Regions from separate parts of the Homo sapiens genome. Here region 1 is linked to region 2. Evidence: fine-mapped expression QTL. Tissue or cell type: whole blood. Region 2 holds a variant in brackets; the other region holds the start of a gene. All regions are shown on one strand. Distances are between the middles of the regions.

Region 1 (8,106 bases), 87 kb before region 2:
CCAAATCTAGTACAAAAGCTTCTTGATTTAATTCCCTTTCTGTCCCTTCTGCCCATAAACTTTAATTCATCCCCTCTCTGTTTGGCTCCATAACTCATTCCTGTCCTTGTCACACCTGGCTTTTCAAGTCCAGAGCCTCTCAGGGGTTTCAAAGCTGGTGACCTCCCTCTCTAGATGTCGTCTAGGGCTAGGCCGAAGCTTCCTTCTCCCTGCCTCATTAGGCACCTCTCTTCTATGCCCTTCCCAGCTTCCAGAAATATGTCCACTCATGCCTGCCCTCTCCCTCCATTCCTCTGTGGCTAAGAATTTATTCCTTTTTAAGGAGTTCTTTGCTATCATTTTAATGGGGTTGTGGGACAGGGAGCGACACCTGTGTTCCCAGTTTGTAGTCTCAAACCTGACACCCGGGAATTCTAAAGTCAGAGAGATCTGGGTTTATGCCCTGCAAGACATCGGCAGGCATCTTGACTGCCCTGCATCTGTTTCCCCATCTAGGATGTGAGGGTGAGAAGCTCCACACCACATGGATTTGGTGAGGATGAACTCTACCGTATATGTAAAGTGGCTGACAGTGCTGGGCACCATGTTCAGTATGTAAAGTGGGTGACAGTGCCTGACACCATGTTCAGTAAATGATACCTGTCATTGTTGCCTGGGTGCAGTTCCTAGAGATGTGGTCTCTTATTTGCTCACTCACTCATCCAGGGCTGAGTGCTGAGCATATCACAGAGTTCCTAAGTCTAAAAGGGGTAGGGAAGTCAAAACACCCAGTGAAGTCAACCGAGCAAGTGATCGCAGAGCTGGCAGCATTCTTGGCAAGAAGCTGTTTTTCCTTGCTTGGCTCCCCTTGGTGCAAGGATATGTCTTTTGCCTGAGACTCTAAAACTTCTTCCCTGGCCTTGGATTAAATGGCCTGTTGGGAGAGCCTCCCCGAGCTATGTGCCAGTCTGCCTCTGCTGGGCCCCTGCTTTTAGGCGGAGGACACATGACTGTCTCTGATGGGAATGAGTGAGAAGCTGAAGATTTTGGGAGAGCGAGGCCAAATCCCTGTGTGGCTCCAGGAACAAGGATAAATATAGCCAGAGTAATTGCTCATGCTCTTTTAAGGATTAAAAGTCAGCTTTTGGGCAAGCTGTGAAGCTCCATGATAGCAAGGGACACAGTTCCTTTTTTAGAACTGTGGTCAGCACTCCTTGTGCGTTGCTGGATCCCAGGCCTCCATGACGCTATTCCCAGTGGAGTAAAGGGATCGCCTTCACTGGTCTACCTGACACAAGGGAGGGATGGGTCTGAAGTGTTCCTGCCACATCCCATTGTCCCACATGATGTCTGGCACACTAAAGGTGCCCAATGAGCATTTTTAAATGGATGAGTGAGCTGTGAGAAATTTATGCTTTTAAAAATAACCTTTAGGATAAGATGTGTAGTCTAGTTAACAGTAGCATCCCAGTGCCAATTTCCTGGCTTTGAAATATACTGTACAACACCGATGTAAGATGTCTCCGTTGGGGAAGCTGGGTAAACGGTATGTAGGAGTCTTTGTACTATTTTAGTAACTTCCTGTGTATCTATAATTATTCCAAAGTAAGAAGTAAAAAAAAATAATAACCTTTAGTCAGGATCATGACAATACCCTTTGACACTTGGGGGAAGCAGTGCTGGAAGATGAATTGAGTAAATCCCTGTTTACAGCAATGCTTTTGTTTTGTTATTATTTATTAATGTAAACACATGTTTTGCTCATATGATTCAAAACTTTAAATGTATCAATAAGGTGTAACCATGGTCAGTCTTTACCCCAGCCACTTAGTTTTATTCCCCATTGGCCACTAATCTAAATGTTATTCATTTCTTGTGCTAATTTTAGAGATGATATGCATACTCACATATGAACTTGTGTGTATACATGAATGCAAGTATATATATGTATTTGCGTGTATATATGTACATATTACAATATGTACACACACACACACACACTCTTTTTCACTCAAATAGTAGCATTTGATAGACACTGTTATTTTAGTTTTTCTACTTAATGTATCTTGGAATCTTTTCAGATCAGTACACCAAGAGCTTCCTCACCCTTTGTTGTGGCTGCACTCCATCTTCTGTTATGGCCCCAGTTGCTAGACATTTATGTTGTTTCCAATCCTTTTGCTTTTGTAAATAATGCTGCAATGAATAATCTTGTTCGTTTGTCGTTTCCCAAGTGTGGGAGTGTGTTTATAGAATAAATTCCTAGAAGTGGAATCGGGTCAAAGGGTATAATCTTGATAGTGCTAAGTTGTCCTCTATAGAACTTGTTCCATTTTTACACACTGACAAGTCATGTGTTTTATAAAATGGTATTGCTAATGCAATGATTAAAAAGTTATTTGGTGATGCCTTTGTGTGGTGAAAGCTGTGGGTCTTTACCCAAGAGAAACATAAACCACGTAGTGGCTTACATGCAATTTCAGTTGGCTCAGAGACCCCTGAAGGTTATCCGTGAACCCTGGGTTCAGAAACCCTGGCTGAAACGGAGGCAGCATGATAAAGAGGACAGAGCTTTAGGGACAGACCACCTGAATTCACATCTCAGTGCTGTCACTTATTTACTGGCTGTGGAACATCAAGCAAGTTGTTTTACTTCTTCCAGCCTCAGTTTCCTTTTGAAGGAAAGGCGTAGACACTTGTGAGGATAGAGTGCTTTTATGTAAATCATCTAATCTAATGCTAGGAATATAGTAGGTACTCAATATGATATATGATTTTGAACTCTCTCTCTCTCTCTCTCACACACACACACACACACACACACACACACACACAGCCAGCCCTAAGTTCCATTTCAACTTCTGATTTTGATTGTCCCTGTAGTGCCTGCTGCTGGACTCACAAGATCAACCTTTGAAGCGACATTCCCTAATGTGGGATCCTTGGACCAAGTACATGAGAATCACCCAAGGGCCTTCACTAAAATGCAGATTTCTGGGTCTATGTCAGATCCATAGAATTAGAATTTCTGAAAGAGGAACCCAAGGAGCTTCACACTTGGGGGTTCTAATGCACATTGAAGTTGGAGAAACAGCACTGAAGAGTTTGGTCAGTTCCTTCTAGACCATATACTTGCAATTCTAGTAGTTACCACCATGTGGCTTTGTGGGGGACGGGGGTTGTGGGGGGAGCCTGTACCTCCATGTGGACAGGTGTGGACACTTGAGAGAAAGCATGGCTAGTACCCAAGACAGCCTCCTCTGGTTTCATTTACAAAAAACAATTATTGATGAGGGTAGCGGACTTCATGCGCTGCACCCCTGTTAGTGATCTCTCTTACAACAACCACACAGAAGAGACAGGACTTCCTGAGAACCACATGCCTGAGGAAGGTGCTGGGATGGAGGCTCAGTGGGCCAGGCTCAGTGGAGAGCATCTGCCACTGCTGCACAACTGATCTGTGGCCAGGAGCTGAGCATAAGGACTGTGTTTGCCAGGAGAGCTTGAGGCCATAGGCCTGGGAGCTCCAATCCCTAGTGCTCTCTACCATGACTACTGAATGTTTTCTGGGTGGCTAATGATGGCCAAAAGCTAGGGTTCCCGGATTTATCAAACAAAAATAGAGGATGACTAATTAAATTTGAATTTCAGATAAATAACAGTCTTTAATACAAGTATGTCCTGTGTTTATCTGAAATCCAAATTTAAATGGGTGTCCTGTAATTTATCTAGCAACTTTACCTAGGGTTTCTCTGTGCTGCTCTAACCACAGAAGGGGCTGAAGTCCCCATGTGGCTTGCCCCCAGCTTGGAGCTCCATGATCCTGGCCTTGGGTAGGCCCTATACCCAAGGCAGGTGAAGAGTGTGTATGGACAGGGTATGGATTTCCTGGGCAGGGGCAGGAAGCTCATTCATACTGATCTAGCTCTTATGAGATGCTGGCAGTGTGTTAAACACTTGACTAACATCTCATTTAATCCCCTGACTACCTAGTGAGTCGGGCATTATCATTATTATTTCCACTTTAGAGATGAGGAGACTGAGGCTCCACGATGTTAAGACCACAGGCTGTTTAATGGAGGAGCAAGGTTGACATCCCTGGGGCTGGTGCCAAGTCTGGGAGTAGCTGAATCTCCCAGGCCATTCTCTCTGGCAATCCCAAGAGTTTAACGCAGTGGGAGCAGCCCCTGCCCCCGAATCCCCAGGACAGGAACCATTCCCAGTTTCTCTTGGCGCTGGCCCAGGGTCTTCTCCAGGCTCACATGCTTGCTGGAGGCTCCAGGCGGGTGGGGAGATCTGCAGGGTCCCTTTGTTCCCGTCCGGCCAGGACAGTGTCCAGTGGCACGAGTTGCCATGGGGACTGCCATCTGCTGTGTGGATACCCATCGGAGGGGCCCAGGGTGAGCGACTGCCCCAAAGGCCCAGCCTGCCCTGAGCCCTGAGGCCAGCTGGTCGGCTTTCCCTGCCATTATCCCCCGAGCCAGGCCGGAGTGGGGCTCCCAGAGGAGCTCTCGGCTCTAAGTCCCAGCCCCTCTCAGAGGAGGCGTGCGGCCGAGGTTCTGCAGCCAGAGGCTTCTCGGCTCTGAGCTCCGGAGCCAGATGTAACATTGACCTTAAATGGTAAAAGCTCCCCAGAGTGAAGAGAGGCTGGCCAGAGGAGGAAAGGAGAATAACTCAGTTTTAGGTAAGCCTCCCCTATATCCTAGAATAACCTGCCTCTTCGGCTGGGAAGCGGAGGGAACCTTCTCTTCCTTAAAGGTACAGGGTGCTGGGATGGGGGTGCTAAACTTTAACTTTCCAGGGGAGCTGGCTTTGTTGGGTGGCATTTCAGCTGAGTATCTTTATTGTTGCTGTCTTAAGTTTTAAATCAGAAGTGAATCTTGCCAGTCCTAACTTAACTAGATTGTGCTCCTTTTGCTTGCCGTTGGAAAGTGTGCACAGCTCAGGGTGAAAATGTGGGTCCTGACAGGCGATTGCAACCCCTAGCTTTCCTGTGGGCCCCTTTGTGGCAACAGTGGGGTCTTCAGCTTTGGCAAGTCTGCTAAGCAGAGCTTTCTCCCCTCTGTGCTTCCTGTGTCTCTCTCTCTGTCCCCCTACGCCCCTCTGCCTTGAACCTGGGCTGGCATGACCTGTCTAGATCCTTAAGCCTGCCTCTATTTCTGTCTCTGCCCTTCCCATCCTGTGTTCTTGTCACAGTCCCTGTTTTTATCTCTGTCCCTGTCTCCTCTTTTGTCTCCAGCTTCCCCTGGCCTGTGCCCTTCCCTGCTCCCTAGAGGGGGTGTATGTGCCCGGCCCGTGCCCGGCCCTGCTCACCTCCAGGGCTCCGAGTTGAAGCGATTCCTAGAGTGAGCACCATTTGAACTGGCTTTTTCCAAAGGAAAAGCCAGTGGAAGCCAGAGGCCAGAGAGAGGCCCAGCTGTCTTGCTCCCTCCTGCCCAGGAAACAGTTGTAAAGGCTATAGAGGCTCTGCAGTTTGAGTAAACAGCAGCCCGGGGTCTGGGACCCCTGGCCAGCACTCCAGCCTCCCAGAGCTCGGCAGCTGCTGAACACTCTTCAGGCTGCTCACTGGGGTGGCACAGGGAAGTAAATCTGGTCTGAGCAGAGTCTTTTGCAGGGAAAAGGAGGAAGCTTCCTGGGACTGTGAGGCTGGGGGTCCAAAGGAGTCAGGACCTGCCAAGGATTGTATTGCCCCCACCGAGGGACGATGACATGCTAGTGAGGCAGGTGGAGTTGCCCATCCCCCTGCACTCCCCTACCCCAACAGTTCTATGGGGGAGGGAACTCAGGTTAAGTGACTTGCCTAAGGTCGTTCCACCAAGATGGAGCGGAGCTAGGACTCAAACCCTGTATGAGTTTGTATGACTCTAACTCCAGTGCCCATGCCTCTCAACACAGACGTGAATGCCAGGGTATGATGCTGCCTCCAATTGTGTCTTGCGATTTTTGACCTAATGGACAAAACAGTTGTCATTATCATGTTTGTACTGTCCATGATTCCATAGTGCGTGTATGTGTGTGTGTGTGCATGCATATTTGGTGGGTGGCTGTTTATATTCACAGCGGATGCACCTATCTTTATGCTTGGAGGTAAGGGAGGCATTCCTGTATCCTTTATCATCTTGGAGGGATAACCATGTGCTAGCTGCTACTACATGATTGGTTATCCCCATAAATATATTTCTGAAAGAAAATAAACAGCAAACACATGGTTCTTACTATGTATTGAACACTGTTCCCCTTCCCATACAGTAACTCATGACTCCCACAGCTCTACAAAGCAGGGGTCATTCTTTCCACCCTGGTCTTGTAGAGGAGGACACTTTAGCACAGAGAGACTGCACAGCTGATGCTCAGCCCCAGGCCATGGTCTCTGGAGGCTCTGCTCTTGACCTCCATGGTCAGCTCCCGTCTGCTTGGGACCCCATGTCAGAGTGCAGCGGGGGAATCACCGGCCCCCTTGCAACATGGTGCATCTGAGGCTTTCCACGAGGGATTTCACATGCCCCCTCACAGAATGCCATGGGGGATGTATCTTTACCTTACTGCTCCAGGTGAGGACAGTGGGGCTAGGGGATGTTAAATGACTCGTCCAAGCTCACCCAGCCACCAAGTGACAAAGCAGGGAATTTAAATAGTATCTTGGGTGAGGAAGTTAGGGCCATGTGAAACCTACTTGAAACTGAATCCCTGGGAGGCTGAGGAGGCTCATGGTTTGGGGATGAGGAGTTCTGTGGGTCTGTGTGAGGAAGCTAGGTTCCTTGACTGATGGGCTGAACTATACGTGATGGGTCCTCAGCTTTCTAAAAAGCCCTGCCTTTCTCCTCTAAGTCTTTGTAACAGAGGTGGACAGAAGCACCCCACACCTCCTGGAGGAGCAGACTGAGCCCTGCAAGGGCGGAGACCTTATCCCGTTCCTCACCCGTTGTGTGTCTAGCACCCAGAATGCCGGGAGCACACGAAGTGCTCAGGTTCAATCATGTTTCTGTGAATAAATGGACACAATGCTTATAAAGTGGGTTCTGGTTACACAGGGCCCTGGGTTGATTTTGTACATGTGCCTGATGATCAGATTCATCTAGTTTGACCCTAAAGAACACAAGGTGGGGGCCTGAAGTTACCCACCTCTCTCACCCTGCCTCCTCTCCTGGGTCACCTCACAGAGCCTGGACTGCCCCTCAGCCGCTCTCTCTGGGGCTTATTGGTCAGCAGAGGGATTGTTTGCTGACTGAATAGAAGCAGAGGCCTGGGTAGATAGGGAGAAGAGAGCTTGGGGCCCCCAGACTCTGGCCCTGCCCCTGCCCCTTGGGGAGCTGAGTCAGAGGAGGGAGATGGAGAGCTGAGTTCTCAGGTAGTGAATGTAAAAGGAAACGGGAGAAAATTGGTATTAATTGAGCTTCTACTTTGTGCCAGGATCTGTGCTAGATCTGTTATTTAATTTAAGCCTCATGTTAGAGATGAGGAGAGAGGCATACAGCTGGTAGGTGGTGGACTCCAGCTCAAGCCACCTTGGTCCAAAGCGGGCGCTTCCTGCATTAGATGTCACCCTGCCGCTAGTTAGTAACTTAGGTCCTGGGGCAGTTACTGAGTGTCACAGTCCAAATCACAGGAAAATCACGAATAGAGGGAAAGGGGATATCATGTTAGTCCTGTGGACCTTGGAGGCTAGACTCTGAGTTCAGGCGACAGTCCAGGGCAGCCTCACAAATGGGCCTTCAAATTCAGAGTCTTAGCAGAGGTAACTCACGCCCATGACCCTGGACAAGCCCTGCCTTCTCTGCAAGGGCTTTCTCCAAGGGAGGTGGAAAGCAGAGGACAGTTGGTCGGACAGGAAACATTTTTTTTTTTTTTAGACAGGGTCTCGCACTGTCACCCAGGCTGGAGTGCAGTGGTGCAACCCCACCTCCCGGGTTCAAGCAATTCTCATGCCTCAGCCTCCCAAGTAGCTGGGATTACAGGTGAGTACCACCATGCCTGGCTAATTTTTACATTTTTAGTAAAGATGGAGTTTTGTCATGTTGCCCAGGCTGGTCTCGAACTCCTGACCTCAAGTGATCAGCCCACCTCAGCCTCCCAAAGTCTGGGATTATAGGCGTGAGCCATCGCACCCGGCCAGACTGAAAACTTTTC
Region 2 (8,106 bases):
ACAGAAACCTTGTCAGAGAGCTATAAATACCAGGACAGAACCAGAGAGGTAACAGGTAGCTAAGAGAACTTCTAGTTGAATCTCATATCCAAAGAAGAATTGCTGACTGACCCATCTCTGACAGATGATCCTCCAGCTTACTTGGCTACCTTGAGTACCAAGGAATCCATGCCTACCATTCTCTTACTGGCAAGCTCAAAGTATTTAAACATATTTTACCTTGAGCCAAACTAGATAGCCTCTTGTCTCTTCATGGTCTCCTTTGGTGAGACTTCTTTCTATTCACATGATTCCCAGTCTTAACTCTTCAGGTGGCTACAACTATGCCTATAGTCCTGGTCTCTAGCCTAGCCTAGGATCCTGGAAAATGATTGAGCAGATTGGAAAGCTACCAGGTTAAAATCCAGGAGAAAGAGTAAAACATGGATAAATATGAAGTTCTACATGCAAATGGAAAGTAACCATTATACAGGATGAGGATAACTGATTTGGGTCAACTAAAGAGGTTGAGAGTTTTGCTTAATGCTAAGTGTACTGTAAGCCCGTAGTCAGGCACACAAAATCTATGCTGCATGAATAACAAACATCAATGCCAGGGACATTTACCAAAGTCTTCCTGTGCTAAGATCTTGTTAGAGAACATCTGGGCCTCTGTAACAGCAACAAACCAGAATGTGTGCAGGAATGGGATGGTATCTAGAGACCATGGGCCACAGTGGAGCACAGTGAGCTTGTTGGAAAAATGGAGCTAGAGTCTGGAGAAGAGAAGCTTTAGAGAGGCACAGGAGCTGTTTTCAAACAGGAGAAAGATTTATGGAAAAGAGAATACTTGGTTTGTTCATTCTGTCTTCAAAGCACAGACCCAAGATAGTTTTAGAAGTTTAAAAAACAAAAAGCTGTTCATTGTCTCTGTTGACTAGGAGGCATTTATGTTTCTGAGATCTGTAAAAGATCTAGCAACCTTAGGTTTACTCTGGAAAATCTCTTATCTATGGGGTATGGAATCAGATGTTAATTTCTAAGTAGGATACATAATATAGAACATTTTAATTTATCCGAGGAGGAATAATTGAACAACAGGTCTCCTGAGAAGCCTGCCAAGGAGCAGGTTTTTTTCCCAAACATTATAGCCAAAGAGCCAACCAGCTTCCAATTGCCAGCTTAATACTGTGGGAAGCAAAGGGAAGAACATAACATTTGAAGCAGGTAGACCTTGAGGTCTGGCCATGTCATTTGCTAGTTCTGTAATCTTGAGCAAGTGACTTAACCTTGCTGAGCCTTGGCTTATCTACATGTGAAATGGGATGACTAAGTTCTAGCTCATTGTGAGAATAATGTAAGATAACAATTAAAAAGCCCTTAACATAGAACTAGATACTTATAAATGTCAAAGCTCCTGAAGCTAGCTGCCAACAGTACTACTGTGATTTCAAAGAGACATTTTATAAGTAAGCACTTTTTTTTCAGGGCTTCCTTCTGAACTCTCCCCAGCTATTGAGGAAGAAGAGTCAAAGAGTGGCTTAGATGTCATGCCTAATATTTCTGATGTGCTGCTGCGCAAACTGCGGGTCCACAGGAGTCTCCCTGGAAGGTAAAATCAGGATGTGGGTTACAGAAGGCCCTGTACCGAGTGGCCCCTGTGTTGGATTCTAGGTGGGACACAGAGGAACACCAGTCTTAATTCTTGAACCCAGAAGGGCCAAAGTCCAATTGTCTAGATAGGGATAATGCATTCGAAACAAAAAGAATAATGAAAGGCCAGGCTGGGTGTTTTCAACTCAAAGGCCAGGTGGGGTTCTTAGGTGAGCACAGTTCATGAAGGCATAAGGGTCACCAGAAGCTCATGGCAGCAGAGAATGGGCTTTGAGCCAGGAGACATGGGTTTCAATCCCAGATACACCATTTACCCATGACTAGTTAAGTTTTCAAATATTTTTTTGTAGAGATAGGGTCTTGCTATGTTGCCCAAGATAATCTTGAACTCCTGGCCTCAAGTGATCCTTCTACCTCGGCCTCCCAAAGCACAAATAACATTTAAGTAACCAAATGAATGATTTGAAAGAGTAAAGTTGGTAGAAAGACCATAAAATAGGGCACATCTAGAGAATGACATGAGAGTGGGGCATTGGGTAGGAGGTCAAGGAAAGGCCTCTGTGATAAAGTAATAATTTGAGATGTGCAAATAACAAATGACAAAAAGCCACTCATGCAAGGGTTTTGGTAAGATTTACAGAGGAAAAAAATTGTAATTTTAACAAACGGTGCTGGGACAACTGGATAGCCACATACAAAAGAGTGAAGTTGGACCCCTACCTCACACAAAACACACAAATTAACTCATAATGGATCATAGACCTAAATGTCAGAGAGAACACTATAAGACTCTTCAAAGAAAAAATATAAGTAAATCTTCATGTCTTTGGGTTTTTTAGATATGGCACCAAAAACACAAGAGACAAGATTTTAAAAATAAATAGTACTTCCTCAAAATAAAAACTTCTGTGCTGCAAACAGTGTCAAGAAAGTGAAAGGCAACCCACAGAATGAAATATTTGCAAATCACTTATCTGAAAAGGAACTTGTTTCTAGAGCATATAAAGAAGGCTTACACTCAATAAAAAGATAAATAACCAATTTTTCAAAATGGGGAAAGGATTTAAATAGACATTTCTTCAGAGAAGATATACAAATAGTCACTTAAAAAAGATGCTGTGTCCTTTTAGAGGCTCACAGCTCTGCCCCCGGGTACCTATGCCCATTTGTAAGGCACAGTTATCTGCATCAGACACCAGACATACCATGTGGCTTCTCTGCCTAAATCATACTTCTCTGAGTCCTCAGAGTTTCCCCCCAGACCCCCACTTTTTTTTTAAGGTGGGTATGTTCTAACTGGGTGTGGTGGCTCATACACCTGTAATCCTAGCACTTTGTAGGCTCAAGGCAAGAGGATCACTTGAGGCCAAGAGTTTAAGACCAGCCTGGACAACAGAGTGAAACTCTGTTTCTACAAAAAATAAAAATAAAAAATTAGCCAGGTATAGTGGCATGCACCCATAGTCCCAGCTACTCTGGTGGCTGAGGCAGGAGGATTGCTTGAACCCAGGAGTTCAAGGCTGTAGTAAGCCACCTCTGCAGTGATCCTGCCACTGCACTCCAGCCTGGGCAGCAGAGCGAGACCCTGTCCCCAAAAATAAATAAATAAAATAAAAATAAGGTGGGTGTGTTCTACAGCAAAAAAGCAGAATGTGAGTCATTGAAATAGAAAAATGTTTGGTTTATAATTTATGAAAATATGTGCATTTCACATAATATCCCAACAAACCCAGGAGTCAGAAACAAACTTGGCAAGTTTTGCCAAATCATTTAAATCATATGTGTATGCTGTAGATGACAGTTAAGGCAAGGGCCTGATGGGTGGGGTTGTGACAAGGACTGTAAGTGTCAAACATCCCTGCAGCTGTTTGTCCCGTGTTCTGGACTCCGCTGACTTCATGGCCATGGGGTCTTCTCATCCTGACAGGAAGGCACTCATATCATTCCCTAGGGGTGAGAACCAGCCCCCTGCAGAGATGGCTGACCCCTACCTTTGCTCTTGGGGTCCCTTCACACCCGTTCAAGAGAGGAAGCTGTGTTTCCTGAGAAGCTTATTGATGGCATGCTCTGTTGCCAAGTTCTGTGACGCTGGTAGGACCCCTCCCAGGCCTCCCCGCCCCAGCACAGGAAAGGGCCTGTGCATTATTTACATTGTGTGGACTTCAGATGGGGCCAGCTTTAGTTACCAGCAAGAGCAGCAGCCACAGCAGCATCGAGTGGACATGCAGATGCAGGGACTGCCTATAGCTGGAGAGCCCTGGCTGTGGGAACGCCACAGACGAGGAGCTGCTCAAAAGGATGCCTCTGTGTCGGCTGGGGCTTTCTTGCCACTCTGTGATTCTAGCCATCAGAAGTTCTTGCTGTGGAGAAGAACCCTGGTCACTCTCTCCTACCATTTATTCTCTGGCCCGCATGCACCTTTGTCACAGCCCTCAGAGACAGAGGAGGGTGAGGCTTTGCAGACCTGGGTGGATATCCCCAGAACAATTATAATGGCAACTTAGATGTGTATGAGTTATAAAGTCCTTATCACATGCATTTTCTTATTTCTCACAGCAAGGCTATGAGTTCAAGGTCACATTTCCCGAGAGCCCACTGAGTGTGGATGCCATATATTTATGCATACAAACACATACACATACATACATGAGTACATATAGTGCTTATAATACCTCTGCAAGGTAGGTGATATGATTCCCATTTTGCAGATGAGCACGCTGGGGCTTAGAGAGATTAAATAACTTGTCCAAAGTCACAGAGATAGTCATGGTGCCGTAAGAGTCAGTATCTCACAGGTGACAGAGCACAGGCAAGGGGACATTGCATCTTTTCCTTCTCACCAACACAGCTTACTCCACCCCTGGAAACACATGGTCTGCTGGTCATTCAGAGTCACCTTTGGGTCTATTGACTAGGTTGCACACAGTTCAATTGTGTGTTTTCTTTTTCACAGTGCCCCTCCACTCACTGAAAAGGAAGTTGAGGTAAGTGAC[T/G]CAAGTGTGTTATGAAATTTAGTGCCCGTGCTTGACTGGGCTTATTCAAAACATTTCTTCCTCCAGACTCTAGCTCTGACATTTTTAGACAAAAATGAGAAAGAGTGACTGTGGGGTAATGTGAACATTCATGACCAGCCCTCTTGAACCATGAGATCCCCATTCCCACGTCCGTTCATGGAAGATTTTGACAAATTTGGGCAAAAGGGAGAAGGTAGTTGGAAATTTTACATTCCTGTAAGGATTGTTTATATTCTTTAAATGTACGACTTAGATACACAAAACCAGCTGGGAGGCTGCAGAATTGAATCAAATTTATTTCAAAATTACTGAAAAATGGTCAGATTTCAAGTTCTAAGCTTTAGTTTAGTGGGAAAGGGGGCTGGCCTCCTCAGGGTTTCAGCTACAAGAATGCCAGCTCAGCGGAGCCGGGAAGCTGTGCTGTCAGCAATCCAGCCTTCCGGTTTCCTCACTGGGGCCTCCTTGTCCCAGCGGGGTTGTGAGTGAGCTGAGGGGAATCTGCATTTCATTCTGTAGCGGACAAAGAGAACTTATCAGAGGTGAGACAATGAGAACTGCTGATGTGGACCAGATAAGCAGAGGAAGACAGACAGTATGAAGTATCTACCACAGGTAGTATCTATAACTTGCACACAGGCATTGCACTTGCAGTCTATAACACACGCATAGCCATCCTTTCAGCTGATCCTAACCAGCAGCTCTGAAAAGCAGGTGGAGCAGGAATCAGCACAAAGGAGAAAACTGAGTGAGTAAATAACCACACCAAGTTTCTAGATACTGTAGTTGGCAAAACCAAGACCTAGATCCAAGTGTTCTCACTGAATTCAGAACTCATTGTGTCACACTGCTGTTAAGGGGATAATCAAGGTATAGAAAATTAAGCATTGAGCATTATTCATAGACTTGACCAAGGCCGGGTAAGGCAGAAAATTTCTATCACTGGGCTATGAGCTCTAAGCCTACCCACTGACATTTGTGAAGATGGGCCATGGGCGGTTTGTTTAATGTCCAAATGCTGACCGCAGATGTATATGGACACAGCTCTCGGCATGGTGGAAATAAAACAGGCTTTCAAATCAGACAGTCTGAGGTTAAATCCTGGCTCCGTTACTCCGTGTCACCTTGAACAAGTTAATGACCGTTCTGGTCTTGGCCTCTTTACCCATAAACAGGTATAACAGTTCCCACCCCAGAGGGTTATTGTGAGATTACATGAATTTGTAGAATGAAAAGCAGTGCTGGCATATAGTAGATGCTCAATAAGGAGTAGTTTTCAATATTGCCTTCATCATCATCATTGGGTCAATTCTGTACCTTCAATTCTTCTGGAGATGACTGCCTTCCATGGGCCATGTTACATGAACTTCAGAAGCCCCTGTGGTTACTAACCCTGCAGGGTATAAATCTGCTACCACTCAGGGCAGATGATGGCTGTAAAATTGAAGACCATTGCTTCCTTCCTGAGTGAGGTCCATCTGTCTATTTCTTCTCCCTAGTAGTTTCCTACTGTTCTGGGAATTCCATGTATGACCAATATTATCTTTTCAAAGTCTGTTCATGCAGGCTGCAATTTTAGCATGAAACATTTATTTATTCCAGAAAGCTTAACCGAACAGAATCATACCTGGCCTTATTTAATCTCCTGGCAGCTACTTAAAGCTTCTATCAATACAGGATTTGGAATACTCGGGCTAGATGCTGATTGAAGTTTGCTTTACGTCAACAATGCTTAAATCTCACATGGAGTTTCTTTCAATACAGTATTTTCCTGCAAAATCTCCAAAACCCCTCATGCAATAAATCCCAGCATAAATCCAGATGCTTACACAATTAGCTGTACTGGCCTGAGTTTATCTAAACCCAGATACAGGATGTTATTTTCTTAAAATTCAGGAAAAAGCAAAGTGTTATTCTCTTCTTATTTTTTGGTAGAATACATTTGGACCTCCGGTTCTGGGAAGGGCCTAGCGTGGACCTTGGTCCCTGCTTTACCATCTTTTTTGTGGTTTCCTGTGAAGTGAGCGTTTCCCTTGCACATGGCTGCTTTGGTGCTTTGGCGGCTGTTCCAGGGGCCGTTGCAAAACGCTCGTGCAAGGAGCACAGCTGCAGCCTTGTCCTCTGCAGTAACTCCTCCCAGCACCTCTCTCACACCCTTGTTCCCAACAGAACGTGTTTGTGCAACTGTCCTTGGCCTTTAGAAATGACAGCTACACTCTGGAATCTAGAATTAACCAGGCTGAAAGGGAACGCAACCTGACAGAGGAGAACACTGAGAAAGAACTGGAAAACTTCAAAGCTTCCATTACGGTAATTGTGGAGCCTGATGTGAGGAATCCCTGGAGCAGAGACTGTCCCCAAGGGCCATACAGGGTGTCATGCTTCTCTCAGGTACCAAGTATAGTCTCCTGAAGTGAAAAATTGAGCCAAGACTCTGACAGTGTTCCTCAGAGAGTTGGGGGGAACTGAGGCAGAGATCCCAAAGGCCTGGTTCCCTCAGGGCTGTGGACAGGTCCTCCAAAGCCTTGGGAGCTTCTCAGAAGGGGGCAGGGTGGCCTGGGTGTGACTCCTACTTTCAGGCGCCAGGGATAGCGTGTTCACATTGGGCTTCTCCAAGCACCAGAAGAAACTGTGGCCCAGGCCCTGCAGAGGCCACTTCTCTCAGCCTGGATGGGGCCCAGAGCTGCTTTCATGAGAGCTGAGTCTAGGCTTGGTGTGTGTCTTAGTCAGTTTGAATTGCTGTAACAAAGGGCCTTAGACTGGGTGGCTTAAATGGCAAACATTTATTTCTCATAGTTCTGGAGGCTGGAAGGCCAAGATCAGGGCACCAGCATGGTCGGGTTCTGGTGAGGGCCATCTCTGGCTTGCAGACTACCACCTTTCCATTATATCTTACATGGTGGAAAGAGAACAGAACTCTCTGGGGTCCCTTTTATAAGAGCACTAATTCCATTCGTGGGGCTCCACTCTCCTCACCTAATCACCTCGCCCAGGCCCCACTTCACTATCACATTGAGGAGTTAGGATATGTCCCCCCAAAAGTCAGCAGATGACTTTGTGGGGGGCACAGACATTTAGCCCAGTGGTCCGCATCCCCTGGGCCAGGCCGCAAACCGGTACCAAACCATGGCCTGTTAGGAACCAGGCTGCACAGTAGGAGGTGAGCTGCCTGAGAGCATGACCTCCTGAGCTCCGCCGCCTGTCAGATCAGCAGCAGCATTCGATTCCCATAGGGTCACGAACCCTATTGTAAACTGTGCATGCGAAGGATCTAGGTTGTACCCTCCTTATAAGAATCTAATGATCAGAGGTGGAAGAGTTTCATCCCCAAACCATCGCCCCCACCAGGTTTGTGGAAAAATTGTCTTCCAAACCAGTCCCTGAGGCCGAAAAGGTTGGGGACTGCTGATTTAGTCCATAACATTATTTGAGGACCCCAGGTGATGCTCCTACTCCTGTTCAGTCCTCAGCTTCACTCTGGCACCACTGTGAGCACCGGGAA

What was found. PIP is the estimated chance that this variant, and not a neighbour inherited with it, causes the effect.
Region 1: IRAG1 starts here. The variant in region 2 is fine-mapped to the expression of IRAG1 in whole blood (TOPMed, PIP 0.99).

Annotation. Positions count from the first base shown.
Region 1 is chr11:10,690,093-10,698,198 of GRCh38, reverse strand. IRAG1 (inositol 1,4,5-triphosphate receptor associated 1) reads left to right here and starts at 4,444. Exons shown (of 21, transcript NM_130385.4): 1 at 4,444-4,663. The coding sequence starts at 4,597.
Region 2 is chr11:10,603,213-10,611,318 of GRCh38, reverse strand. IRAG1 (inositol 1,4,5-triphosphate receptor associated 1) reads left to right here. Exons shown (of 21, transcript NM_130385.4): 11 at 1,468-1,591; 12 at 4,547-4,577; 13 at 6,774-6,914; 14 at 8,068-8,106. Among named protein-coding and RNA genes, the nearest start is that of LYVE1, 39 kb to the right of the region's middle. RefSeq lists enhancers at 4,883-5,177, 4,903-5,197. The variant T/G (reference allele first, on the strand shown) is at 4,587.